Linked DNA regions of Homo sapiens. The protein of the gene in region 1 interacts with the protein of each later gene in a pairwise test. Each region holds a gene or a part of one and is shown on either strand. Other genes may lie near its edges. The genes, in order: MTG1, ERICH1, STX2 and KRT37.

Region 1 (7,614 bases):
ACTGCTATCTAAAAGACAGAGCCAGGTGTACAAGATGGAACATCAAGGCGGACTAGGAGCGTGACCACTGAAGCACAGCATCACAGGGAGACAGTTAAGCCTCCGGATAACTGCGGGCAGGCCTGACTGATGTCAGGTCCTCCACAAGAGGTGGAGGAGTAGAGTCTTCTCTAAACTCCCCTGGGGAAAGGGAGACTCCCTTTCCCGGTCTGCTAAGTAGCGGGTGCTTTTCCTTGACACTGACGCTACCGCTAGACCACAGTCGGCTTGGCAACGGGCGTCTTCCCAGACACTGGCGTTACCGCTAGACCAAGGAGTCCTCTGGTGGCCCTGTCTGGGCATAACAGAAGGCTCACACACTTGTCACGTCTCACTATGTCCCCTCAGCTCCTATCTCTGTATGGCCTGGTTTTTCCTAGGTTATGATTATAGAGCAAGAATTATAATAATATTGGAATGAAGAGTAATTGCTACAAACTAATGATTAGTAATATTCATATACAATCATATCTATGACCTATATCTAGTATAACTATTCTTATTTCATATGTTTTATTACACTGGAAAAGCTCGTGTCCTCGGTCTCTTGCCTCGGCACCTGGGTGGCTTGCTGCCCACAATGCGCACTCACTGACCACTCGGGCTCTGGCAGCACAACCTGGCCACTTCCCACAGGAGACGTGCACTCCCTGGGTGTCCAGGTCACGAACCACACATTAGATGGGGGCACGCCATATGAGAAACGATGCTGGCACGCTTCTGCAAAGCAAAGGGCTGTTTCTAAAGCAGAGCCTGCCTGGGCAAACTGACAAGTGTGCGTCCGGCAACTCTTCCGTTAGAACAAGCGACCTCGGGAAAACACAGCCACACTGCTGAAGGCGTCTGAGAGAAAGGCCTTTACCTGCTGCTCTGTAAGATCCGCCAAGTCCATCTTGTTGAGGACCAGCAAGTGAGGCTTAAGCCCAAGGGTTTCCTGAAACAGAGGGTTGCGGCCTGAAAGTGGGATGTGGCAAAATTAAGGTAAAAATTCCTCCAAAGCTTTACCAGCCAACCAACTTTTTTTCTTGCCATCAGTGAACGAATCATCACATCCTGCCAATTCATTCCTCAAGTACAGGAGAAAAGCCCCAGTTGGCAGGAACATTTAAACAGTTTCATAGCCCATCTAGAGGATTCCACTGCTGCACCGTACCGTCAGGCTTGAGTGACGCAGATATATGTATTAACAATGAAGTTTCAAAGACACGCAGTCTGGACCCCACATCACAGATTCTGATTAACTGGTCTAGAAAGGGGCCTCGCAATTCATATTTTTAAAAGCCTCCCCAGGTAATTCTAATGTGTAATATGACTTCAGGCAGAGGGGCCTCCCCTGCTCTGTGAAAGGATATCCGGGCATCGTGGACCTCGATGATACAGTCCACCAGCTTCAGGCTGCTCTGCATCTTCTTCAGCCCTGGAAAACAGAAGGACGCCTCAGCGAAGGGGCTCACAACCTTTCTAGAGTGATCGATTCAAGCTGAACCGTCCAGAATGACACGCCACCATAAATAACCTAAAAAGACTATATCTGAGGGAAGCGTACTAAGTAATGGTAACAGATAACATCCGCTGAGCGCCTCCTCCAAGGTCCGCACCCTCGGAGTGGGAGACTGGGAGGCACCCTGCCACAGGGTGGGCCATGTGTCAAAAGCCAGATGCGGTCTTCACCACCTGACTCATGGCTGACTCTGGGTGGAATATTTAACGTGCATGGGTCGCTTTTTTGTTTTCTGAGACGGAGTCTTGCTCTGTCACCCAGGCTGGAGTGCAGTGGCACGATCTCGGCTCACTGCAACCTCCGCCTGCCAGGTTCAAGCAATTCTCCTGCCTCAGCCTCCCGAGTAGCTGGGACTACAGGGACGCGCCACCATGCCGGGCTAATTTTTTGTATTTTTAGTAGAGACACGGTTTCACCATGCTGGCCAGGATAGTCTCGATGTCCTGACCTCGTGATCTGCCCACCTCGGCCTCCCAAAGTACTGGGATTACAAGCGTGAGCCACCGGGCCGGGCCCTTCCACGGGTCTTAATCTGGGCTATAACACAGAGTAACACTGGCTCATTAGGCCCCTGCTACCTCGCGGGGATGATGACGATAGTCCCCTAACCAGGAATACCACACACAACCAAGATAACAAAGCTTCCAGCTTTCTTCCCCTCCAGTGTTATCCGAAGACCGAGGACACAGCCTCAGTCACCCACACGGGCCCTTCTTCCCCCTCGGCCCCCAGTACACGCGGAGCCGACGCAGGAGTGGCCATCACAACACCTAGACGGGCTGGGCTGGCCCCAGAGGTCTTCTTGGGGCCGAATTGTGACAAACAGTAAGAATTACCAAAGACGTTAAGCAGGAGAACGACTCAAGATACCAGTTAAAACTGAACAGGTGCCTTCATACCCACTGTTTCATTTAGTCCCCAAAAGACTCAGAAAAGTCTATCTTGTCAAGAACATGTGGAAACGGAGGCTTCGGGGGATTAAAAGGGCAGAAGGAACTTGCTGGGAACAGAGGACAGGGGCGGCGGGCCAGAGGTAGGAGGTCAAGCAGGCCCTGGGTCCGAGGCTGCGCCGCGGGGGCACTCGCGGGAACGGGCCTCTCCCGCAGCTGCGCAGGGGAAGGGGTCCCGGCGGCTCCGGGAGCGGGTGAGAGCGGGGAAGGAGGGGAGACAAGGGAGGAGGGGCGGGGCCAGCCCAGAACGACCGGGAGAAGCAGGCGACGGCCGAAACCGGGGTGGGAGGGAAGCAGAGGCGCCGCGGCCGTAGGCATGACCTTGCCCCTCCCCGCCGTGCCTCACCCTTGGCCATGTGGCCCGGGAACCAGCGCGCCACGTCGCGACCGCACAGGGGGAAGTTCTCCCGCCAGGCGGCCTGGGCGGCGCTGCACAGCGCGCGCGGGGTCAATCTCATGGCGGCACCGTCCCCGGAAACGCTCCCGCAGCTGACCTCCTCTGCGCCGCTGCGACCCGCCTCTGAGGTTCCGGCGCTGCGGGCCTCCGGCACTGCGGGCTTCCGGCGCTCCAAGGGGCCGCACCACGGCCTGCGCGTGCGCACGACGTTGCCTCCGCCTCCGGCGAAGCCCGGAGTGGGCGGGGCCCGGGCCCAGAGGGAGGGACGAATGGTGGGTCGAGCGTCGGGGCGGGACTGCGAGGAGACCCGGGGGGACGGGGAGGTTCCTGGGTTTTGTGGGTTTAAGTAATTCGCAGATTTATTAACATTCATTAAATATTAAAAATCATCGTTCTCCCTTAAGCATATCCTGAGTATAAGTGTAAAAATTTAGCAATCTCTTTTTACAATTTGGTTAAAATCTCTCAAATACTTTAAATTTACCTTATAAATGTAATCTCTTCATTTTCTTTTTAAGTACTTCAGGGTTTTTGTTTGTTTTGTTTTGTTTGAGACGGAGTCTCCGCTCTGTTGCCCAAGAGTGCAGTGGCACGATCTCGCTCATTGCAACCTCCAACTCCTGAGTTCAAGGGATTCTCCCACCTCAGCCTCCGGAGTAGCTGGGATTACTGGCGCCTGCCACCACGCCGGCTGATTTTGTATTTTTAGTAGAGATGGAGTTCCACCATGTTGGCCAGGCTGGTCTCCAACTCCTGACCTCAAGTGATCTACCTGTCTCGGCCTCCCAAAATGCTGGGATTACAGGCATGAGCCACCGCGCGCAGCCTCAAGTACTTCAGGGTTTAATATAACAAACTGTTTCCAAATACTGACTGCAGTTCTGCTAAATTAAACCGATTAATTAATGAGGCTGAAATATTCTCCACTGTCCAAGACTAGACATAAATATAGTCGGATTTCAACTCTAAATCAGCAGTCAGCAACTGCTCAATTGCACACTGCGTTACAAGAGTATTACTCTACCGGAATTTTTATTTTTGAGACGGAGTCTCGCTCTGTCGCCAGGCTGGAGTGCAGTGGCGTGATCTTGGCTCACTGCAACCTCCGCCTCCCGGGGTTCAAGCAGTTCTCCTGCCTTAGCCTCCTGAGTAGCTGGGACTACAGGTGCGCACCACCACGCCCGGCTACTTTTTTTGTATTTTTAGTAGAGATGGGGTTTCACCATGTTGGCCAGGCTAGTCTCGAACTCTGACCTCAGGTGATCTGCCCACCTCAGCCTCCCAAAGTGCTGGAATTACAGGCATGAGCCATGGCACCCAGCCTCTACTGGAATTTTTTAAACAAGCTACTGAAAATACCAAACATGCTCAAATTCTAAGTACAAAAATATTGCCATGGTTCTGATGTTCTTAAACCACCTAATACCCTAACGCCTAGCTGTAAATATTTTTGGGCATGAGAGAGTGGCCCCTCCGTGGAAGACAGAAGCCTCCCAGGTGGTTTCTGGGCTGAGTGGGGGCAGTCAGGGCCTCCTGCTAGGTCAATGCCCCCAAGCCCCCTCCTCACCAAGCCGGTCCCTCACACCCAGAGGGGGCAGCCTGGGTCTTGCTGCCTTTCTCCCTGGGATACAGAATTGATGAAACCCTAAATGTCAATGATAAAGATTTTTGTACTTTAAGGAAGCTGCATTCCCTCATGGTCCTAGGAGCACAAAACCACAATAAAACCCTGTGGAATCTGAATTTCTCTCCCAGGCGTCTGATGGGCAGGTGTCCCCAGAGAGAACAGTCTGGTGACACAGCAAATGCAGGTGGGGCTGCTGGCTACAGAGGGAGGCTGGGGCTCGGGAGGGTGGGGTCAGGGAACATCCTAGGAGGGGCAATTTGAACAGAGACCAGAGGGTGAGAAGAGAGGAGCCCTGCAGATCCAGGCTGGGGTGGAGGGGCCGGAGAGGGGCCTGGACTCCCAGCACATTCACCCCAATACCACGTGGTACCCCAGCACTGCCCACACCCCAACATCCCCCGGCACCCAGCACACTCACCCCAACACCCCCCAGCACCCAACACTACCCACACCCCAACACCCCCCAGCACCCCAGCACTGCCCCCACCCCAACACCCCCCAGCACCCAGCACACTCACCCCAGCACTGCCCACGCCCCACACACTCCCTGGCTCCCATGGGCTGGGCACCGTTTCTCTTTTCAGGCCTTATTATGTATTCACTTCCTCCAGAAAACCCCCGGCCTCAGGGCAGGGCAGGGCACCCCTCATCTCCCCAGTGCCCTGCGAACCTGTGAAGTGGGCGCCTGATGCAGCATCAGTTGATGAGCAAGAGGAGGGTTGTCAGCTATGCTGTCATCCCAGGCAGCAGCCACGAGAATGCAGGGGCACGAGAAGCAACTACAGGACCCAGAGTTCAGGGAACCCAGAGTGTGGGGCCATGTGTGGTTGTGGGGATTGGAGACACAGGGCCCTGTGCAACCTGGGCCCGGAGCAAGACAAAGACAACAGCAGCAGATGCTGGAGCCCCAAGGCAGGAAGGACAGGACAGCCTCAAGGCAGGAAAGATGGCTCTGGGAGCTGTGGCTGTAACTTGCTTTATGTGTCCAGCATCTCCGTGAGCATCTGGTGTCTCAGCTCAAGTCAACCCTGGCCAGACTCCAATAACAGACACAAGAACTGAGAAGGTGGCCCTGGTTACCAAAAACCAGAGGACCCTCATTAACATCCCCAAATTTCAAGCCAGACTGAAATCTGTCAGAAGAAATGAGGGTCCCAGCCTACCCCCGACACGGGTGGAACAGAGTAGGCTGGGCCCAGCTAGAGCCTGGGCCTGGGCTGCTGCACCTGCGGGGCCCACAGACTGAGGAGGCGGTCGGCCTCCCTCCATCCCGACAGCAGAGCCCCGTGCGTCGTGGAGTAAAACGTGCGATGTGTGGCTTCCCCCGCAAACAGGATCTGGAGCTGCAAAGAAGAGCCAGGGTTAGAATGGGGATGCAATTCAGACAGCAGGGTCTGGGCAAGGAAACACAGAAAATGGCTCACAAGCATCCACCAAGAAGCAGGAAAACAGCTCACACACCTCCACCAACGGACGAGAAAAGGGCTCACGTGTACCCACCAATAGCCAGGAAAACAGCTCACACACATCCACCAACGGGCAGGAAAACAGCTCACATGTATCCATCAACAGCCAGGAAAACGGCTCACACGCATCCACCAACGGGCGGGAAAACGGCTCACACGCATCCACCAACGGGCGGGAAAACGGCTCACACGCATCCACCAACGGGTGGGAAGACGGCTCACACGCATCCACCAATGGGTGGGAAAGGAAGCCACTGCACCCCGCAGCTCAGGTGTGAACAGCTTTTAGAGAAAACAAGGGGTGTAAACACTGAATAGTGATCTGGCCTCAACTCCTGGATCACATATGGGGAGGGTGGGGGAGGGATCTGGGAGTCGGGTGGGCAGAGGAAGAAAGCTACAGCCTTATCTGATGTAATGAGAAGTCAATTAGTAACACCTGAAACTGAAAACTCAAGAAGCAACATTTCCAAGCAGGTTCACTGAAGAGAGACCATGAGCTGATTGGAAAACTGAACAGTGACTAAATATTGGATCATATTGAGGAATGATTATTAATTTTTAAGTGGGTAAATGGTATCATAGTTATATGGTTTTATTTTTATGTTTTCTGAGACAGAGTCTTGCTCTGACACCCAGGCTGGAGTCCAGTGGTGCAGTCATAGCTTACTCCAGCCTCAACTTCCTGGGCCCAAGCCTGAGCAGCTGGGACTACAGGTGCATGCTACCATGCCTGGCTACTTGTGTGTGTGTGTGTGTGTGTGTGTGTGTGTGTGTGGAGACCGACTCTCACTATGTTGCCCAGGCTGGTCTCGAACTCTTGGCCTCAGCAAACCTCCTGCCTAGGCCTCCCAAAGCACTAGGATTACAGGTGTGAGCCACTGCCCTCAGCATCATAGTTAAGTATTTTACAAGGATGTCTTTATCTTTTAGAAACAGGCACCAAAATATCCTGAGGTGAGACAATGTCCTGTGTGAGTCATGCTTAATAAAAAAGGGCGGGGGTGGGCGGGGAGAAGCTTGGCTTAGGGGAAGCCTGGTGGGCACTGAAAGGTTCTCCCTACTTTAGTATGTTTGACATTTTGCACAGGAAATGTATCTCAAAACGTGGTAGCAGAAACATGTTTTTAGAGATGCAGTAAACTTAGCGATGAGAATCAGCTGGGAGCACCGTCTGAGAAGGGCAAAAGGGGCTCCACCTGCCATTTTGGTTTTATTTTCTTTTGTTAGCACTGCAGAATTCTCTGACTTTTTAAGCTGTGTGTGTATAATTCTCACAAAAACAGTACATTTAAAAATTATTCTTAGTTTCAAAAAGAAAATGGCTTCCGAGTCTGGGATCCCAGCCCACCCGCCACTGGCTGGTGCTCCTGCAGCGCCCAGACTCGGCGGGGGCCTCTGCAGCGGGACCCACGCCCCCCGACTGGGGCACGCCACATACCTGGGCGCCGGCGCCGTCTGCAGGGAGGGGCTGAGCCAGCAGGTCCAGGTCGCCCCCAGTACTGCCCACGGCCACGTAGCTGTAGGACCCCCTAGTGTACGGGGCGCTGTGCCAGCGAGACCGCAGGACGCTCTTGGGCGCGGGGAGCCGTGGGTTTCCTGAGCCACAGAGACACTGCATGTTAACCGAGAAC
Region 2 (7,023 bases), on another chromosome or scaffold:
CAGCTGTAAATATTTAGACATATTATTTGTCAGCAAAGTTATTTTTAGATACCTGGATATTTGTATTAAACTGAGTTAAAATTTATTATAATTCTTGTTGAAGAAAAAATCTCCCGCTTTATAATGAGATATCCATTTTGACATCTATTTGAGATCATCTGTTTTTGTGCCTGTTTACAGGACACTTTATGAGTAATTCATGGGTCATGGATAATATGACACAAAACCAGCCTTTGCCAATATTTAATATCAAAATCATGCTGTAACTCCTGTGAGTGAAGCATTGTGCGGGACGTGCTCGTCTTTTCTGTGACAAGGCTTACCAGAAGTAGCAGGGGTCAGAGTGGCTTCAGGCTCATTCCAGCGAAGGAGCAGATACGGTGACCTCCAGGAGTGTGTGGGCCACTGGGAAAGACGTTTTCCTTCACTAGGTTCTAGAACACCCATGCAACATGGAGCCCCTTCAGCCATAGGGATTCATGATACTTAAACCAGTTTAGCTTAGGCTGCTGAAAGGTTTTCTTTTTGCTTTAGTTTATTTTGACGACCGTGCTCAAGTTTGAATTTGAAAAGGGACATTGTCTTTCCCGTGGCTGTAAACTGTACAGACCTTTATGTGTTGACCGTCGTGAATTAGCACATCCAAATCCCTACGGCCTTCTTCCCACTCCCACCCTCCATATGAAAACTCGGGATTTAAACGTTAAGGACTAAAATTGTATACTAAAATTGTATTGTTTGCTTAAGATTTTTAAGCAGCCTGTTTTCCTGCATTCTTAAGTAGTTGCATGCTCTTCCTGGCATCCTGATTATCCCAGTTATCAGCTTTGTTATCCTGTGTGTCTGTGGCTGACACTGGCGCGGTGCCAGCATGCGTCCTCGTCCTTCATCGTGGGTACCTCAGCGTTCTGCCATCGGTCATGTCCGTGGGTGACGCTGGCGTGGGGCAGGTGTGTTTCCTCGTCCTTCCTCGTGGGCACCTCGGCGTCCTGCCGTTGGTATGTCTGCGCGGCCTGCATTTGCCTCTCAGAGGTCTCATTTGTCTTTGAGGGTGTCCAGGACATTCCTCTTCCTCCAAGTCCTCTTTTGTGCAGAGCAGTCAGTGATTTTCAAGGACTGACATGATGAGATTTTGTGTTCAGAAGACAAGAGGAGCAAGGTGCACGTCTAGGGCCGCGTTCTGCTTTCTAAATGTTGGTCTTCTTGGAGAAGGGGCTGGTTCCAGGCCTAGGCAGAGAAAATACAAGATGAGCCTGCGGTACCTTGTAGGGCCTTGTGTGCTCATGGGAGGGCCGGGTGGGCTGGAGGGCACCAGGTCCATGCTGGAGGGCGCTGGGTCCACACTGCGGTGGACCCTGTGGCCAGTGCTGGGACTATTTGAGCAACAAAGTATATCCGGACAGTACAGGGTGATGGTCCTTGGAACGAATGAAACATCTACGAGTCCTTAAAGTATTAAATAGCACAAAGGTAATAATTCAATACATGTGCAAGTGTGGGCACTTCAGTACAAAATTCCACGTGATAAACATGGAAGGAGTGAGGAAGGAAAGCCACTGAGGAGCCCACAGCGACGTCTGCCACCGCCAGGACCCACCAGCGGATGCCAGAATTAGTGGGTGAGATTGAGGAGGAAAAGGATCTGGTCCCGCGGTGTCTCCTCCACAGTGTTTGTTGGTTATGAAGGAAAGAGAGTCGCTTGGCAGGGAGAAACCCAGCAGACCTCACAGCACCTGCGGGCGACCGCGGGCGTCAGCTGAGAGAAGCATCTCAGCCAGATGTGGGCACCAGCGCCCATCTGCAGTTCTGCAGAAGTGAATGACCTCAGTGTCACCCTGAGAACACTGGACCCAAGTTACTGCAGTTCCAAAAAATAACTGCCCCAAGAGATGTCATGATGGTGGAGTACAAGGAAAATGGGAGAAAAGTGAGGCATGGAGGGTGGATGGGGCAGGATCGGAGCCTGGTCGATGTGGGAGCCCGCTGTTGGATGACGGCTCAAACAGCCAGGGCTGGGGTGGGGCAGAAACCCAAGTTTTCACGGTTGAAACGGCCTCCCTGAGCCTCGCCAGGCCTGGGGCTTTCGTGTGGCAAAGCCCCGAGGGTCGGGCTCTCAGCCCAGGCAGTGGCCCCAGGGCCTGGGCTCCCGGTGGGAGGTGAGTCTGGGACCTGCCTAGGTGGTCTATGGGGAAGCTCCTCAGGAGGGTGTTGGGACATTGGCATGTGCACTGACAAACCGCACAACACACCTGGGTACAGATGGGAGCGCACAGAGAAGCCGCACAATGCACAACACACCAGGGTACAGATTGGAGTGCAATGACAAACCGCACAACACATGGGTCTGCATGGTTCTGGGAACCACCCCTCTCGAATCTGCTCGTGTGGCACCTGAGCAGGCGTGCAGGGGAATTGCAGAAATCCTAGAGGCTGAAGACCCAGAGGCCTTGGGGTTCTGTGGTCCCTGCACGCTGTGCCAGCAGATTGATTCCTGGCTTTCAGGTCGTGAGGCTGGGATCACGTAAATCTCTTCCGAGAGAAATGCCTGTGTTACAGAAGGCGGAGCTTGTGACTCCCAGGGTGGCCTCTGCCATGTCAGTTATCCCTGAGAAACCCCTGTCAGCTGTCACTCTGAATTTAAAGCCAGCTGACTTTACATTGTTCCCGCCTTCTACTTCCATTTTAGAATTTTTATAAAGATTCGAAATGTACTGTACACCTATATCAGATATTTTCATTTGAAACATGAAATTTAACAGTGTTGGTGGAAAACCACTGTTAATTAGGCTATAAATGTAATTTATTTCAGGCAGTGGATGGAATTCAGTGAAAATGCTCCCTACCTTTCTTTTTTTTTAAGGCACATTCTTATTATGTCGCTTTTAGCTCCGAAATCTGCCTCAGGAAGCCTTGAAAGACCGTGACCTGGGGCCAGACTCAGTGCGCTCCAATCCGTACCCTGGTGTGTTGTGCGGTTTCTCCGTGCACTCCGATCCATACCCTGGTGTGTTGTGCGGTTTGTCATTGCACTCCAATCTGTACCCTGGTGTGTTGTGCGTTGTGCGGTTTCTCCGTGCGCTCCGATCTGTACCCTGGTGTGTTGTGCAGTTTGTCAGTGCACTCCAATCTGTACCCTGGTGTGTTGTGCGGTTTCTCAGTGCGCTCTGATCCAAACGCTGATGTGTTGTGCCGTTTCTCAGTGCGCTCCGATCCTTACCCTGGCGTGTTCTGCCATTTTCTTTGGGATCAGCTGCCTTGTTTCAGAAAACTCTGTCATCTGATGCTTGCTTGGGCCCAGCGTCTCCTGGCGGTGGCTGTTTAGTCAGGGCCTGCCCTGGCCTGCCCCCGTCCCTGGGACTGTCTTGTGCCTGCCCAGCCTCAGGCGTTCTGCAGCATTGCCTGGCTCTGACCATGGCCTGGGATTTCTCCATAGCATTTTCCTGGCTCCAGACACTCGCAGGCAGCTGTGCCTGGGGAGGCGACTTCAGCCACATGTCCGCGTTGGCTGCCCCAGGCCCAGCAAGGCTTTAGCTCTGAGCGCCCCTGTCCTTGTTTGCAGAATTGGACGGCTGGTTATGGTTTTGTCTTAGAATTTGTTTTGGCTTATGAAGATGTTGGATAAAGTGCATCTTATCTGCCTACCATCTCCTCTGCTCATCACCAGCTTGGTCATCTGGCACAGGACATTTTCTTCTTTGACATTTGAAGGAAATGTGACCATTGGATTTTTATCTGAAGTCTTGGAACCTTCTTTTGAACATACCTGGGAGCACTGCAGCACATTTTTAAAAGCATTTCACAGACCACCTGTTGCTCCCTGAGAGCCAAGGTGTCTCCGCCGGGCAGGTATGCTTGAGGCAAGGCCTTTCTGTAGGGGTGGGACCCGCTCACCACAGCCAGCAGGAGCTTTTGAGGTATCCTGTGCTAGTGCACTTCTGCATCATATTCAAAATATAGCGTATGGGGACCCTCTCATTGCCAGGACCTGGTGAAGAGCCCGGGGTCTCAGGGATCACATCGTTTCAGTTCAGGTTTTCCACTTAACCAGAGGTCGTTTCCTCCCAGCAAAAGCAGGCTTTGTGCTCACTCTCTGGGAGCCGCGGAGGTGGAGAGTCTGAGTGAGCAGCCACCTTGTTCATGACCACACTGCACCTCACTCCCACTGAGCTCTGTGCTCAGGGTTTTCATGGTCCATCCACGGAGGGCACGGGGAGCTCTGGTGAGCGTTGCGTGGAAACCCACATAGTGTTCTTAACAGCGGGGCCTGTAGGAGGGTTATTTCTATCACGTGTTTGTCCCAGAGGCCAGAATTAGGAAGGATTTGTGCCTTCAGCTACAGTGTTCCCAGGTAGGGCCGTGGAGCCTCCCTGCCTCGCCTAGAAGCCACCCCCAGCGTCTCCTCTCAGGGGGCCTATGACAGATCCCTGCACGCCTCCAGTCAGGCCAAGTCCCTGCCTCCCTGTTCCTAAAGGCACCAGGCAGTTGTTTCAGGAGTGCTGATTTCCACTGTGCGACTTTTGGTTATTCCAAAGCAGCTGCCTGTTTATTAACCACACTTAAATCAGGGCAGAAATATTTATTCATTATGACCGTTTGTCCCACAGTTTAAACAACGTAAACTAAAACAAGCAAAGTAAAGAATCTCTGTTTAGTCGTTAAACCACGTCAGATGCACGGAATTCTCCCCATTCGCAGTTGTTGACACGTTCAGTTTAAGGGAGAGAGTGCAGACCGTGGGTTCCCAGAGGGCGCGGGGTGGTGCCTGCCCTGCCTCAGGGCCCGCCAGACCTGCTCCATTCACTCACCTGGCTCCAAGCACTGTGGGCCACTGACACCGTCCACCCAGGACCACAGCCCCCACTGACAGGGGTCATGGCCTGCATGTGCCTGAACCTCACAGGGAGGAACCGAGGGACCTGCAGCCAGAGGCAGCACCTGCCAGCAGTGCACAGCCTCCTGGATGCAGGGTGATGCCCTGGAGAGAGGGTCAGCTGATGGCAGGATGGTGGGGGGTCCTCGGGCCAGCCTCAAGGGTTCCTCTGCGGGCAGAGTCTGGGGGATCCTGGTGTGCAGTGCCCAGCGTGGGAGGACCAGGGACTTGGGTCTCCGTTGGTGCTTTCAGGATGTGTGTGTTTGTGTAGAGTAAAAGTCACGTGTGATTCAGATAAACTGCATAATTCATTCCTTTTCCTCCTTTTCTTTTAATCGGTTGTCTGTACAGTGTTTGTGGAGAAGGTGCTGCAGAGACTTTTTCCTCCTGTTCCAAGTGGCCAAGGAAAGAGGGAACCCCAGACGCTGGCCGTCCAAAATCCACCAAAGAAAGTGACCTCTGAGAAAGTGAGCCAGAAACATGCTGAGCCTTTGACAGGTGAGTTTGTCTGCAGATGTGGGTGGGTCTCAGAAACTGAAGTTAACCTCCGTCATCATCACTTGCCTTGGAGAATGTGTCTTTTGGGCCTCGGGCATCTGTCTGCAGGTCTGCAGAGGGCCTGCAGCAGGTGGGCAGGGCAGGCATCGCTCTCCACACAAGCTCTGCCAAGGCCCCTGTGGACTCCCCAGCCAAGGCCAGGTCAGGGTGCTGCCTTTTTGGGGTCATTTACTTGTGTGCTCTGAAGATGGCGATTGGACTGAAACTGGGGCTTGGGCCAGCCTTCCTGTCCTCTGAGGAAGACAGGCGCCTTCCCCACCATACACCATGCCCCCAGTCACTGTGGTGGCCCCCTTGGCCCCGTTGGCTTGTGCCCACTCAGGGACAGGCTTCTGAGGTTCTTGTCCCGTGGTCTTTGGCAGACGTCTGTCCCATGACAGCCCCATGTTAAGCTCTTGGTGGCTGCAGGATCATCTGCCATGAGAGTCCCATCAGCTCTGGTCCCTGCAGTGCAACTCCGCTCACCTGTGAGACTGTGAGAGGACCCCGCTGAGAGACACGGGAAGAGACCACCTGGGTGCAGCACATCCCACTGAGAGACACGGGAATAGACCACCTGTCTGCGGCACATCCTACTGAGAGACACGAGAAGAGACCACCTGGGTGGACCACATCCCACTGAGAGATGCGGGAAGAGGCCACCTGGGTGCAGCACATCCCACTGAGAGATGTGGGAAGAGACCACCTGGATGTAACACATCCCACTGAGAGACACGGGAATAGACCACCTGGGTGCGGCACATCCCACCGAGAGACACGGGAATAGACCACCTGGGTGTAAGACATCCCACCAAGAGACACGAGAATAGACCGGCTGTGCGCAGCACATCCAACTGAGAGACGTGGGAAGAGAACACCTGGGTGGAGTACATCCCACCGAGAGATGCAGGAAGAGGTCACCTCTGTGCAGCACATCCCACCGAGAGACACGGGAATAGACCACCTATGTACAGCACATCCTACTGAGAGACGTGGGATGAGAACATCTGGGTGCAGCACATCCCACCGAGAGATGCCGGAAGAGGCCGCCTGGGTGCAGCACATCCCACCGAGAGATGCCGGAAGAGGCCGCCTGGGTGCAGCACATCCCACCGAGAGATGCCGGAAGAGGCCGCCTGGGTGCAGCACATCCCACCGAGAGATGCCGGAAGAGGCCGCCTGGGTGCAGCACATCCCACCGAGAGATGCGGGAAGAGGCCGCCTGGGTGCAGCACATCCCACCGAGAGATGCCGGAAGAGGCCGCCTGGGTGCAGCACATCCCACCGAGAGATGCGGGAAGAGGCCGCCTGGGTGCAGCACATCCCACCGAGAGATGCCGGAAGAGGCCGCCTGGGTGCAGCACATCCCACCGAGAGATGCGGGAAGAGGCCGCCTGGGTGCAGCACATCCCACCGAGAGATGCGGGAAGAGGCCGCCTGGGTGCAGCACATCCCACCGAGAGATGCCGGAAGAGGCCGCCTGGGTGCAGCACATCCCACCGAGAGATGCCGGAAGAGGCCGCCTGGGTGCAGCACATCCCACCGAGAGATGCCGGAAGAGGCCGCCTGGGTGCAGCACATCCCACCGAGAGATGCCGGAAGAGGCCGCCTGGGTG
Region 3 (7,023 bases), on another chromosome or scaffold:
CAGCAAAGCTAAGAAGAAAAAAATAGAACATCTTGCCTAATAAACATCCTACACAAACATCCTGCCTAATAAAAATAGACGGTAAGAGAGTTCTGACTGCCAAATAATGGAATGTTAACACACGCAGCATCCCAGAGCTCCTTACAGAGTAATTTCAGGTGTAATTTTGTGGCTTTTGCATAAATGTCAGAAGACTAACTGGAAAACTTCTCATCTGGTAACTGCATGGTGAGCGTAACAGATGCTCACATTAAGATATCAATCTCTTGTTTTGAGATGGTCTCGCTCTGTCACCCAGGCTGGAGTGCCGTGGTGCGATCTAGACTCACTCTAGCCTCGACCTCCCCAGGCTCAGGTGATCCTCCTGCCTCGGCCTCTGGCGTAGCTGGGACTATAGGCACGTGTGCCACCATGCCCAATTAGTTTTTGGATTTTTTTTTTTCTGTAGAGACAGGGTGTTGCCATGTTGAAGGAATAAATCTTAAAGATTACAAAGCAATAGTGAGACTTAACCATGCTCGTGATTCCTTTCTGCTGTATGTTAACTTTTTAAAAAGCCTTGGGTGACTATCAAGTCTGCAGTCACTTCCATAACCCAAGAATAAATTCATTGGGGATGACTTGCCACACTCTAGACACCTGGGAACAGTTCACAACTGTCTAATACAAGAATTGTGCCAAACATTTACAGAGAAATCACTGCTGTGTCCACCTGTAACACACCGACAGCATTGCCACTTCAGGGCCAGTGCAAGGATGGCTCCCAATGCAGAAGAAAACCAGGGGGAAACCACAAAGCCTGCTGAAGTTTAGGAAAGGTGACACTCACACCTTGATTCTTTAAATAAACTGATACCTTTTATATTCAGAATTCTTTAAGAATTAACAGGCATGCTAACTAAATATAATACGTAATTTTCCTTTTAATATTAAAGGAAATATTTTTAAATAAAATAGATGCTGCCTATAGAAAGGTCGAAGGATGTTCCTTTCAGTCAATGTTTTTCTCAGCGTTCATCCATGCCCTCGATTCCATAGTAAAATGATGCGTTAGTGTATTTTATAAAGTACCTTTCAGTGTTGCAATTACTCTAAAAGCTAAAACTCAGGAGACAAAACATTACAACTGAGAATTAATCTTCACTGAATTTCTATGACATTTAATGAAGGATCCACTACATGTAAAGAGCTAATGGTCTTAGATCAAAAACAAAAGATTCAGGCTGAGTACAGTGGCTCATGTCTATGTATAATCCCAGCACTTTGGGAGGCTGAGGGCCAGGAATTCGAGACCAGCCTGGGCAATACAGAGAGTTCTCGTCTCTACTAAAAATAATTTTTTTAAAAATTAGCCGAGTGTGCTGGTGCACGTCTGTAGTCCCAGCTACTCGGGAGGCTGAGGTAGGAGGACAGTTTTAGCCCAGGAGGTCGAGGCTGCAGTGAGCCATGATCACGCCACTGCATTCCAGCCTGGGTGACACAGCTAGACCCTGTCTCAAAAACACTTTTAAAAACGGGATAAGAAGGTGACCTTGGTTTAAAAATGAGTTACCGCCCAGCCTGTGCTTGTTCTCAGTAAACACAGTGGCTGGGCACTCGAATCAGCACACAGGCAGATGTATCACTAGATGGCATTATCTGTACTGCGTGGCTGGCAAGCTTTTATTAGTTTTATGTCTATTACAATTAAGCAAATACTATTATTGGTTAATTGCAAAAGTTAATAAGTAAATTAGTTGATGAGTTACTTACTCCCACCCTGGCAGAGAGGCATGCACACTGACGTTATCCACACCATCATTTGCCAACTGACAAGCCAATAATTAGAGCGATTATGGCAACCAGAACCACTGACACAGCAATAATTATCCACTTTTTCTGTCAAAGAAAAGCAAGCTGATTATATCATGCATGGTTAATTTCATATTGCCACATTAAAAGACATCCTTCATTTAAAATAAAACGACCTGGCCAGGTGTGGTGGCTCACGCCTGTAATCTCAGCACTTTGGGAGTCCGAGGCGGATGGATCACCTGAGGTCAGGAGTTTGAGACCAGCCTGGCCAACATGGCGAAACCCTGTCTCTACTAAAAATACAAAAACCAGCCGGGCGTGGGTCTGCAATCCCAGCTACTCAGGAGGCTGTGGCAGGAGAATCACTTGAACCCAGGAGGCAGAGGTTGCAGAGAGCCAGGATCGTGTCACTGCACTCCAGCCTGGGCAACAGAGCAAGACTCCATCTCAAAAAAATAAAATAAAATAAAGCAAAACAACCCATCAGAACTCACTTTAGAAGCTAAGTTACAGGACACTGCTTAATACTGTTGGGCGACTTCTTGAGAGAGTGACTTAATAAGGTCAGACTACTTGGCGATAAGCTGCTATGTAACTGTTATTTCAGGTTTCATCCATGGGGACAGCACGACCAAGTCATTTTGCCACATTTCTGATGACTGAGACATGCAGTTAGTTTTCCGCATGTACAGAGGTGCGGGCCTGCTAGCTCAGTGACGGAGAGCCCCACTGCCTCGTCATGAAGCCCCGACACACTCAGTACTTGGCCTTTCGCTCCTTCTTTTATGTTCTTGGCAGTTACTTCTTCACTGCTCCTGACATAGCACACAGAAAAAAAAAACCCTTCTACAAACGTTGCCTGGCCTCCCTCTGAGGGCCACATGGCTCCGCGGGAATAAATGCAGGACACTAGGAGTGGGGACGACCCACACCTGAGCCAGGGGCAGCAGCAAAGCATTTGAGCGGCAAGGGGACAGGGAGACAAGCCAGGAGGGTTCCATTAGCAGGCATCTCATCAAAAAGACAGTGTCATTTCTGAAACAGGCATCACGTCTCTGACGAGTTTATACGCCAGCTACCGCACAGACCCCAAGCACCTCACAGAGCCAGGCTTGCTCATCCACAGAGGAGAATGAAAACGTATCACACCCACCACCTTCCCCCTTTGTAAAACCAACGAACTTTCACTATCGTTTTCACCAGACTGACGTGTTCAGGTCATGGAGAAAAGGAACAGGACTGCCTGTTTTTAATGAAAGCTGACTTAGGCCTGGAACTAAGTTAAGCACTTTATACAGGTATCTCTTCACCTCAGTTTACATTAGGGGCCAATTTTTTCAAAGCAATAAATGAAATAACATGAGAAACCATGTCTGGCATTTCAGAGATGACGAGCATACTTAGACATACCCAGGAAAAGCGGAGGGTGTGCCCTGGCGGCTGAGCCTGCAGCCCGGGGGTGTGAGTGAGGGTGTGCCCTGGCGGCTGAGCCTGCAGCCCGGGGGTGCGTCTCAGGGCCATCGCCTGGAGGTGCATCCACACACACCGTCTCACTCCATTTTTTCCTAACACGGTGAAAATCAGCATCTCTGTGTATTAGCACAAGGAGGTGACAATGTGAAAAACCCATAATCTCTCCAGTGTCAGGGGCACTATCATAAAATGCCTAAGTTAGGAGAGTAAGTTTTAAATTTTTGCCCCGTAACAAAAAAATCACACAGGGTTCCCTGAACCCTTTTTAATGCAAAGTCTGTGCATCTTGAGTGAAAGGGGTTCCCTTCTTTTGAGGATCCCTTTAAGTGGGTGCTACCTAAGACTGCAGGTCCACGGTCTCAAATAATTCTCTTCTTTCCTCCAAACCAAGAAGTCACGAATAACCTAAATTAAAAATAAATGTTCACTGCATCAAATGTGTAGCCAACAATTTGGTGCCAGGCACCGTGCCTCACGCCTGTAATCCCAGCACTTTGGAAGGCCGAGATGGGCGGATCACTTGAGGTCACGAGTTCAAGACCAGCCTGGCCAACATGGTGAAACCCTCTCTCTACTGAAAATACAAAATTAGCCTGGCATGGTGGCGGGTGCCTGTAATCCCTGCTACTCAGGAGACTGAGGCAGGAGAATCACTTGAACCCGGGAGGTGGAGGTTGCAGTGAGCCAAGATCACTCCATTGCACTCTACTAGCCTGGGCAACAAGAGCGAAACTCCAATTCAAAAAAAAAAAAAAAAAAGTGCTGGGATTACAGGCGTGCCACCACACCCAGCCCTAGGGTTTCAATTACTTAGAACACAAAAGATGAACTACAAATAATTCATCTAATAAACCTTTTAAATTTTTAGCAAAAAAAATTATTTCCATTTTAAAATAAAACATTTATTAATTAATTATTTCTTGGAATACCTTTTAGGCAGGCTTACATCAATGTATTACAACTTGAAACCAAATGAAGAGAAAAACGCAGCTTAATTCTTCGAAGCCAAACTCACCCTTCTTGCCTTGCTCTGATATTTGATAGCTTTTTTTGTTTCTTCTTTAGCGTGTTCTACATAGTCTGTGGCATTCATAACATTTCTTTCTATGTTGTTGATCATTTCACCCTTAAAACAAAAAGTTTCAAACTTAGAAGACATTTTCAAATGGCTTAATCATGTATCTTTAAGACAACCATAGAACAAAGGTTTTATATAAACACGATGTGCATGTAATGGATACTGAGGGTTTTTTTCACATTTACAGAAAGATAAAAGATGAGGCCATTATACATGTGCCAGTGCAAAGCAATCAAAACTCAATTTATATTTTAAAAAGAATGAAAAGGAATGGGCCACCATGTTGATAATTAAAGGCACCTCAAGTCAATTCTGAGATACCTTTAACACGCAGACACTTTCGACAGATGGGCAGGGTGAAGGGAGGCAGCCAGCTTTTGGTTGAACTAGTATTTTACCATTATGCACAGACAGACAATATACAAAGAATGACATCTTTTCCACAAAGTAGAAAATTGTAACTACTTCTTTAAATCAGTAAACTGAGCATAGCTCACATCTGACACTCAGCTGACTACATTAATGAGCAAAATGTAAACAGAGGTGAATTCAGCAAAGTGTGAGGGAGGTAACGTATTACCTGGTTGTCTGTCCAGACACAACCTGCAGCAGTGAATCGTAAAGCATTGAAGAATGACGGAGAGTTAACTCACTCAGTCACAAACTTCAACTTACTAGTAATCTCTGACTATGCACACATTTGCATTAGATGAGTCAATATAATGCAATACCAACAGACTTCTAAAAGGAAACAGTGAAACAAAGCCAGGGATGCAGCCATTTTTCTAACGGAGCTTAATGCAATGCATTTGGTATAGAGCAATTACAATTGAAGTCTAAGGTACTACAAAAGCTTTAGTAATTACAGAAATCATCTCTCGTTCTTTCTGTCCAGCTGGTTTCCTTTGGAATGCTTCCTGGAAATAAGTAACCAATGGTAATCAGACTCCCCACACTCCACTTACCATATAATGAATGGCAACGGGGCCCCCAAAATCAAAAAGGAGTAAGATCGTCCCATCCCTGCCCTCTGTGTAGCTGTTGGTTTCCTCTAGCAAATGCTTATACATACAAACATTAGCCGGGCGTAGTGGTGCAAACCTGTGGTCCCAGCTACTCGGGAGGCTGAGGTAGGAGAACTGCTTGAGCCCAGGAGGCAGAGGTTGCAGTGAGCCAAGATTGTACCACTGCACTCCAACCTGGGCAACAGAGCAAGACCCTGTCTCAAAAAAAAAAAAAAAAATAGGCATGGTGCCTGAGTTTTTCACACACATTCTCATTATAAAGTTCTTCAAAATACAGTGTTTCTTAACAAGGTTGCTGAAGCAGGCAGGAACAATCCTGTGTGTGGATGGATTCCTATCCTTACACAATCCAGGCAGTCTCAGAAAATAAGCCCATCAGATGTGAACCTACTTAGGGGATGACTCCAGCCAAAACAGATCCGAAACCAGGCTCAGGACAAGTGAGGAAACCATTTACTTAGGATGGTTTGATATAAATGCTTCCGCTTCACCTGGTGGTCAGCTGAATCCTAACCAGCAACAGAGTCTTATCTCCATGGTATTTGAAAAATAACGAGAAGACCTTATTCAAAGACAAAGAGCGAGTGTGAACATACCCATGCACATCACAGAGCATGTGATCTGTGATCCATCCCGTACTTTACATGGAGAGTTCAATATATACATACATACATATATATGTGTGTATTTTTTTTTTTTTTTTTTGGAGACAGGGTCTCACTCTGTCACCCAGGCTGGAGTGTAGTGGCATGATCATAGCTCACCACAGCCTTGAACTCATGGGCATAAACAATCCTCCCACCTCAGCCTCCCAGAGGAGTTTTCTATTTATTAAGAATTGCATTAACTCTTCGGTTCACTCAGAAGGGCCTTTCCACACCTGCTTTCACTCCCTATCTGTGTTACTGGGCAGATGGGAAACCCCGTGTAACAGGCACAAGCTTGCATCTGTGTCATAGATTGTATCCCCACTTGGGGTTGATTCTTTCAGACATTTCTCCTAGTTATTACTGTAATATATGCTTCTTATAGAAAATCTGAAAATAAATACTTTTAGAGAAGATTAAAATTCCCATAGTCTCACTGCCATTACACTGTTTGATATACGCCTTTCCTTCTGTGGATACTGTTTTATGGAGCCAAGCTCGTGCCATGTGTTTGTGTTTATGTACTCATACATATGTACGGGCATACACAGAAGATCTTTGTATCTCCCTTTTCTCTTAATTCTAGCACAAACATCTGCATATTTCAGTAAGAATTCTCCATGAACAAAGTTTAGGTTGCCTATGGTTGCCTAAAAGGCTGACCTATGAACACTCCATAATTTAATCAACTGAACCAGTCCCTTCCTGTTAACAGTTCAACTGTTAAAGCTGCTTCCAGCATTTCAGCATCACATATAACACTGCAATTAACCTGAATTTGGTGGATCCAAAATAACAGCTTTCCTAGATACATCCACTAGACAGAGTGGGATGCAGTAAGATTTTACACATGACTGATATCTCTCTTGGAGAATGCAAGAGTCTGTAACTACCTGAGTCTCCACAAACATAGCCATGTCCATGAACATCTCATGCAACTCTCGGATGCTGGTCTCCAGCTTCATGATGTCCTTGTGACGTGACTCGATTTCATTGAGAGCTTGTC
Region 4 (7,407 bases), on another chromosome or scaffold:
TCTGCAGACAGTCCTTCTGTAATGGGAAATAATGGGGTAAGAGATCCAGGTGCCCCAAAACTCAGCAGTGAAAATCATGACCAAACTCATCACACATAGGGCAAATTCCAAAATGTCATAGGACATTCTCAGAGCTCTGGAGAAATCACTGTCAACATGACCATGACTTCTCTCTCATGCACACAAATCTAACTTAAGGAACTGTCATGTTCATCCCTGTATCCCCAGTGCTTGACAAAAAGCAGGCACCTCGTAAAATCTTGTGGAGTGAGTGCCTGAACTTCCGCACTGTGTTGTAAAGGAAGTGGACTTGATTTTCTGAAGAAACCATTTCCCTGGGTCACACTGAACTTGACAGCAAGACGTCTCCATCGGGTATAGAGGACCCCAGATCTTGACTTAATGTTGAAGGAACTGATTTGTGAGACTTTAAGAGATGCTACTACCAGGACATGGCATGGGGCATTTGCAGTGCAGTGAGGGTGAAGGACACGTACCAAGGTGTGCTGGGCTTGGCGCTCCACCTCCAGGGCATTCACCGTGCATCTCAGCTCCAGGATCTCCGACTGGCAGCACTGCAGCTCCTCGGAGCAGGACATGGCCTGCAGGCTGATGCCTTCAGACTGGAGCACAGAGAAACACAGTCACCTCCCTGCTCAGATGGAGGCCAGGTACTCCCTGGCTCTGTAACCCCCACTCACCTGGGCTTGGAACCACTGTTCCACATCCTGGTGGTTGGTCTCCACCATGGCCTCGTACTGAGCCCGCATCTCCCCCAACACCCTGTTCAGGTCAATGGTGGGCTCAATGTCCAGCTCGATCCGGAACTTCTCCCCCAGCTGACTCCTCAGAATCTTTACTTCCTGCAGAAATGGAAGCGATAGACAGCCTGCGTAAGGAAACGGCCTTTGATGGAGCAGACAGCACCAGGACTCCGTCCCTGGCAAGCAGTAGGAGGGGAGTCCCACACATAAGCAAATGGGAAAGTCTTGTCCAGAGTGCATTTGGGAGAGCCCACCTGGACACCTTCCTCATGCCCAAGGCAAGTCTGCACTTTCCACAGAGGCCCTCTGGACCCTCAGACCCACCTCAGCCCTGCATCCTTAGGCCAGCTGAGCCCAGGCAATGCTCTGAGAGCCCCAGGGCCGGGGAGCTCCCCTGTCTGCCCAGCGCCCTCCCCAGGAGTCTGAGCAGCCAGGGCCACACCTGCTCGTGGTTGCTCTTGAGGGAGAGCTGCTCCTCCTTCAGGGACTCCTGCTGGGCCTCCAGGTCGGCCTTGGCCAGGGTCGCGTCATCCAGGAGCTTCTGCGTCCCGCACTTGTCCGCCTCCACCAGCTGGTGAAGGGAGCGCTCACTCTCCAGCCTTCCGTCACAGGAGGCACAGGGTCAAAAAGAATGCCCCAATAGCCCCTCTCAGCTGCCCTGGCTTCCTACCTCCCACACCACCTTGGATCCTTATTTGTTCACGTGGGCAGTATACACTATTCTCAACCCTGCAGCGACACGGTTTGTAGTCAGGACATTATGCCCATTGACCAGATGGAAGACTGAGGCTCAGAAACAAAACACGAGTTGTTCAGAATTCCATGCCCAGTTAATAGTAAATGCATGGACTCATCCTAAGTGTTCTGACTTCAAATGCAGCATTTATTCTGCCATAATAGGAGTCATTTGGCCAGGAAAAAGAATGGCTAAAAATAAGCCTCTGGACCTTCAGTTTGCTGCTTTTCCTCTTGGATTCATTATTTCTCGTTGTTTTCTTGCTTTTCCCCTTCATTCAAGCACAACTCTAGCTACCAAGGAGCTTCAATGACAATTCCTCCAGCTGATGGATTTGGCCAAGAGTCAGAGAGTCTAGCAACAACCTATGCATTGACAGTTTATTTTTGTGATGACTCAATTTTACTTCTGATTGAAAAGCAAAATCCTCTTATCTTCTAGATATGGGAGAAAGTGACATAGGTTCTAACCAATCTAGACTACAGCCCTTCTTTTTCTTTCAATGCTTATATTCTCTTTCCTCCTATATAATGACCATTTCTAGCAACAGGCTAATTTAAGGTGTGGAGAGAAATATTCTTCTAGTCAAAAACTGTTTTTGAACACCTACAATATAGACTGAGTAATGGGGCGGGCCCTTGGAAATACAGCAGGAGAGAAGTCACACTGACCCTCCTCATCCTGACTTACTTGATCCTAAAGTCATCAGCAGCCAGCTTCGCGTTGTCAATTTGTACAATCAGCCTGGCATTCTCAGCCTTGCTGCACAGGATCTGAGGAAAACGGAAAGACGGTTCACACACAAAGCACCATACTCTAAGCTCCCACTCCATGTGTGGTATTTACGCTCATGTCCAAGAGAAACCAAGAACCCAAAGCTCTCTGGACCTTATGCAGATTCCTCCTGCGAAGGCTTCTGCCTTCTCAGACCCAGCATGCCCAGGCGATCCCACACCTCACCTTCTGCTGGAGCTCCTCGATTGTACGGAAGTAGGACTGGTAGTCGGGGCACACGGTGGACTCGTGGCACTTGCTCCTCTCGAGGAGTGTGGTCTCCAGCTCTGCATTCTCCTGCTCCAGCTGGCGCACCTTCTCCAGGTAGTTGGCCAGGCGGTCATTCAGGAACTTCATGGTCTCCTTCTCATGGCCATTCAGGGTGTTTTTGCCGTAGGCCCCACAGATTCCGATGTTGCCGGGAATGTGACAGGTCCCTGGCAAGGGACAAGCAGTGTGACTGGTTGGGGGCAGACAGAGGCTGGGGCGGCCCAGGGGAGTCGACCCCACACGGACTCTGTTGGCGTGTGCCACGTTGGCCAAGAGGCACATGGAGGCAGCATTGGCCTCTGCCACAGGCTGGCACCCAACATCGATAGGAGAGACAAAGACATTTCTTGCTCCAGGAGCCATGGTGCAACCCAGAGGGCATGAGGAGGTGCTGTAGAAGGAGGTCATGGTGTAGGGCTGAGGCTGCACAGGAGCTTCAGATCAGCTGGGAAGGCTGAGCCACTGAGACTGAAGCCTCCTCTCCTCCCAACCCTTTTATACCCCATCCTGGGCGGGTGTTGGCTCCAGTGCTTTGACCTCCTGCCTTGATTATCTACCTGTTGTGGTGCCATCATCCTGTTACTCAGCTGCTGAGTTTACCATGAGAAGTTCCTCAGCTCATTAAAGCAATGTTGACAAATCTGAGATGCCTCTTGGCTCTTCCATATCAGGTTAGCTGTTGGTGGGAAGTCAGAGACTCACTGTTTCTGCTCAACAAACACCAGCAGTTGATTCAGGCCCCAATTGCTCTCTCTGGACTATGGTCTCTGTGGATGTGGTCACAATGAAGGCTCAAATCTTTCCGTCAGTAATTTGTGTAGCAGGAGACACAGAGAACCAATGGGACCCACTGGATCTTTCGCCTGTGCAAGACTGAATCAGCCTTTCCTTTGAAGAGAAAATATCAGTTAATAAAACCAATGCATCTACTGATATTTGACGATTGAGAGGCGCCTTTTTTTCTTTCTTCTTTCACATTGCATACTCCCTTGAGAAGCAATAACATCTGGAAGCAATGGCGCTAATTAAGTTTTGGTTGACTAGTCAGAATCAGCTATTCATTCATTTGTTCATTCATTCATTGGTTCAGCATGCTTCCTGAATATCCCCCATAACTCAGGCAGTGTGCTGGTTCCTGGACACGCAATGTTCCCTGTTCATCAGGAGTAAACAATGCCTCTGAAATCTCTGGATGTTCTACACAAACTTGAATGAGAACCATAGATCAACAAGAGTTAGTGAAAGACAGAGGATCTATAGTTCTGGCCAAGGAAGTATCTAGAAAGAAATCACTAACAAAGAAAAATCTTATTTGATCCAGGAAAGGGAGATTGGGCACAGAGCTCAAGCAGTATTCAAATGAAAGGTCCAGAACTAACATTGATTGAGTACTTAGGTGTGCTAGGCATTCTACTGTGTTCTTTCCTATCTAACCCTTACCACCTATGAGGTGGTTACTCATTGCCTCAATGTACAGATGAGAAAACTAGAGTGAAGTACATTTGCACATTTTCTGATTGACAGTTAGTGAACTGGCAAAGGCTCGATTCAGTCTCATGTCTGCTAGGCCCATTCTCTTTTCACTTCATCATGGCCCCCGGTGAGAACAACGGTGTCATTGCCCCGTCAGTGCTGGGCCTAAGGAGAGGGCAAGAAGGGGCTTAGTTACTGGATGAGAAATTGTGGTGAAAAGAAAATTACTGAAGGTCTTTGTGTTCCAGCAAAGGAAAAGATTTAAATACTATGGCAGTGACAACAAGAAAATGCACTTTAAAAAGTTAAACTAGGCCGGGCGCGGTGGCTCACGCCTGTAATCCCTGTACTTTGGGAGGCCAAGGCAGGCGGATCACCTGAGGTCAGGAGTTCGAGACCAGCATGAACAACATGGAGAAAACCGGTCTCTACTAAAAATATAAAATTAGCCGGGCATGGTGGTACATGCCTGTAATCCCAGCTACTCAGGAGGCTGAGGAGGAGAATTGCTTGAACCCGGGAGGCGGAGGTTTCCGTGAGCCAAGATTGCGCCATTGCACTCCAGCCTGAGCAACAAGATTGACACTTTGTCTCAAAAAAGAAAAAAAAAGTTACGCTAGTTTGTAACATATGCATCATTTAAGACAGGGTGCGTCCTGAGAAATGCGTCGTTAAGAGATTTCTTCACTGTGGAAACATTATAGGGGGAACTCACACAAACCTAGATGGTAGAGCCTACTACACACCTAGACTGTATAGCACAGCCTATAGCACCTGGCTACAAACCTGTACAGCATGTTGCTGTACTGAGTATCATAGGCAACTATTATTAACACGATAATATTTGTGTATCTAAACATAGAAAAGGTAATGCATTGCACTACGACATTATAACCACTTCCACATCACTAGAGAATAGGAATTTTCAGCATCATTATAATCTTGTGGGACCACCGCCCGTATATGTGGTCTGTCGTTGACAGAAACATTCTGACTGTATATCCCAAATCCCAGAGATTTCCAGTAGAGCTGGAAAACAAGTCAACCAATGGGGGTGTGGCCAGGAGTCATCCCTCCCAAGTGGTAGAGGGAAACCAGAAGGACCATGGGACAAGCTCTAAAAGAGTATAAATAAACTCTTTAAAAAAAAAAAAATCCCAATTAGTGGGAAAGTAAATGGCTGATACTAGTAGCAAAACCTTAAGTCTTTGAAATTGACATACTGGAAATGAGCCATTATTAAGATTTTAAATGAAAATAATAGGATTTAGACATAAAATAGGAAGCAAAATACAGTAAACAGAAATCGTGTAGCCAAATATGCATCAAATATGCATTCCCTTCAGCTACACTTTTTTCCTCTGAAATACAAGTTTTAGAAAATCTTAGAAGAGGGGTGGGCGCAGGACTTAATGCTGGGAAGCAACAACTTTGGGGCTGAATTTACTTGAATGGATTACAAATTGCATTGTTACACAGCTAAAAAAAACTTTATGTATGAAAAATGATAATAGCCTTACACTGAGTACAAATAATACTTAAAAGCATGTGAAGATGTGAGCATCTGTGATGTTACTTATAAAAAAAAAGTTTAGGTTTTTTTCCGTAAGTTATTGGGGTACAGGTGGTATTTTTTCCATAAGTGGTGGGGTTTTTTTCCATAAGTATTGGGGCACAGGTGGGTTACGTGAGTAAGTTCTTTGGTGGTGATTTGTGAGATTTTGGTGCACCCATCAGCCAAGCAGTATACACTGCATCCTATTTGTAGTCTTTTATCCCTCACCCGCTCCCTTCCCCCGAAGTCCTCAAAGTCCATTGTATCATTCTTATGCCTTTGCATCCTCATAGCTTAGCTCCCACATATCAGTGACAATATATGATGTTTGGTTTTCCATTCCTGAGTTACTTCACTTAGAATAATAGTCTCCAATCTCATCCAGGTCACTACAAGTGCCATTAATTCATCCTTTTTATGGCTGAGTAGTATTTCATCATATATATGTACCACAGTTTCTTTTTTTTTTTTTTTGAGATAGAGCTTCACTCTTGTAACCCAGGCTGGAGTGCAGTGGCACCATCTCGGCTCACTGCAACCTCCACCTCCCAGGTTCAAGAGATTCTCCTGCCTCAGCTTCCCGAGTAGCTGGGATTACAGGTGCCACCACCATGCCCAGCTAATTTTTGTATTTTTAGTAAAGAAGGTGTTTCGCCATGTTGGCCAGGCTGGTCTTGAACTCCTGACCTCAGGTGATCCACCCGCCTTGGCCTCCCAAAGTGCTGGGATTACAGGTGTGAGCCACTGTGCCCAGCCCACAGTGTCTTTATCCACTCACTGATGGATGGGCATTTGGGTTGGTTCTGTGATTTTGCAATTGTGAATTGTGCTGCTACAAATGTGTGTGTGCAAGTATCTTTTTAGCATAATGACTTCTTTTCCTCTGAGTAGATACCCAGTAGTGGGATTGTTGGATCAAATGATAGTTCTACTTTTAGTTCTTTAAGGAATCTCCACACTGTTTTCCATAGTGGCTGTACTAGTTTACGTTCCCACCAGCCATGTAGAAGTGTCCCCTGATCACCACATCCACTCCAACATCTATTGTTTTTTTATTTTTTTGATTATGGCCATTCTTGCAGGAGCAAGGTCGTATCGCATTGTGATTTCGATTTGCATTTCCCTGATCATTAGTGATGTTGAGCATTTTTTTAAAGTTTATATATGTATCTTTTGAAGTATTGAAAGGAAACTAGTACTTTATATTCTTTATCATATCATGTTTTATAATTGTTGAATATGTTCCTGTTTATTTTTCTCTGTCCTGTTGTGTAGCCTTAAGAAGTGTTTCAAAAAAAAAACCAAACATATCTGAATGTATAAAATAAGAGTAAATGCCCTACAAGTTATGATGCCACATTATACATAAAACTGTGTGCATATATTTTTAAACAGCATAAATACATCTTTGCTCTGAGAAAAAGTTGAACATGCATCCCCGTGAAAACCACAAGGGAGTCAGGGGATGATGGTGTTGATGAAACCTGGGCTCTTGGAATTCTCTCAAGGAGAAATAAGGGGTCTGGAATTCTTCCCAAGAGGAAAACCCACTGTGGGTCAGCTGTGGCTCCAGCGGCCCTGAGGTCAGCTATGACTCATTCTTTACTGGGGCAATCCTTAGAGGGCCTCTCCCTGCCAGGCCATCCCTCAGAGGCCTCTGGGTGCAATCTGCATTTTCCATCTTCAAAGACCCCTTTGTTCCTATCTTCCGCCTCAACACATAGCATCACTATAATCCAGAGAATTGAAGCATTAAAATTCTTCCCTTTGATTTGCTAAATAGGAACCCTCTCTTGACCCTATCCTCTGGCAGGATTTTATCCCATTGGCTAAAA

The links.
Region 2: the proteins of MTG1 (region 1) and ERICH1 interact in binary tests that used the Homo sapiens proteins (3 or more experiments, as listed by UniProt).
Region 3: the proteins of MTG1 (region 1) and STX2 interact in binary tests that used the Homo sapiens proteins (3 or more experiments, as listed by UniProt).
Region 4: the proteins of MTG1 (region 1) and KRT37 interact in binary tests that used the Homo sapiens proteins (3 or more experiments, as listed by UniProt).

Annotation. Positions count from the first base shown.
Region 1 is NC_000010.11:133,389,555-133,397,168, reverse strand, and holds the start of MTG1 (mitochondrial ribosome-associated GTPase 1), read right to left. Parts: upstream 3,013-7,614; 5' UTR 2,949-3,012; coding exon 2,837-2,948; intron 1,457-2,836; coding exon 1,392-1,456; intron 1,007-1,391; coding exon 902-1,006; intron 1-901. Other genes in the region: PAOX (peroxisomal N(1)-acetyl-spermine/spermidine oxidase), read right to left, coding at 5,714-5,857, 7,422-7,579. UniProt on the Homo sapiens protein: Plays a role in the regulation of the mitochondrial ribosome assembly and of translational activity. Displays mitochondrial GTPase activity.
Region 2 is NC_000008.11:714,206-721,228, reverse strand, and holds part of ERICH1 (glutamate-rich protein 1), read left to right. Parts: intron 1-5,221; coding exon 5,222-5,368; intron 5,369-7,023.
Region 3 is NC_000012.12:130,794,243-130,801,265, forward strand, and holds part of STX2 (syntaxin-2), read right to left. Parts: coding exon 6,911-7,023; intron 4,949-6,910; exon of another isoform or gene 4,926-4,948; intron 4,394-4,925; coding exon 4,283-4,393; coding exon of another isoform or gene 4,259-4,282; exon of another isoform or gene 4,148-4,258; intron 3,673-4,147; coding exon of another isoform or gene 3,601-3,672; exon of another isoform or gene 3,518-3,600; intron 1,879-3,517; coding exon 1,798-1,878; 3' UTR 1,753-1,797; intron 1-1,752.
Region 4 is NC_000017.11:41,421,572-41,428,978, forward strand, and holds the start of KRT37 (keratin, type I cuticular Ha7), read right to left. Parts: upstream 3,015-7,407; 5' UTR 2,953-3,014; coding exon 2,461-2,952; intron 2,274-2,460; coding exon 2,191-2,273; intron 1,364-2,190; coding exon 1,207-1,363; intron 864-1,206; coding exon 702-863; intron 624-701; coding exon 498-623; intron 17-497; coding exon 1-16.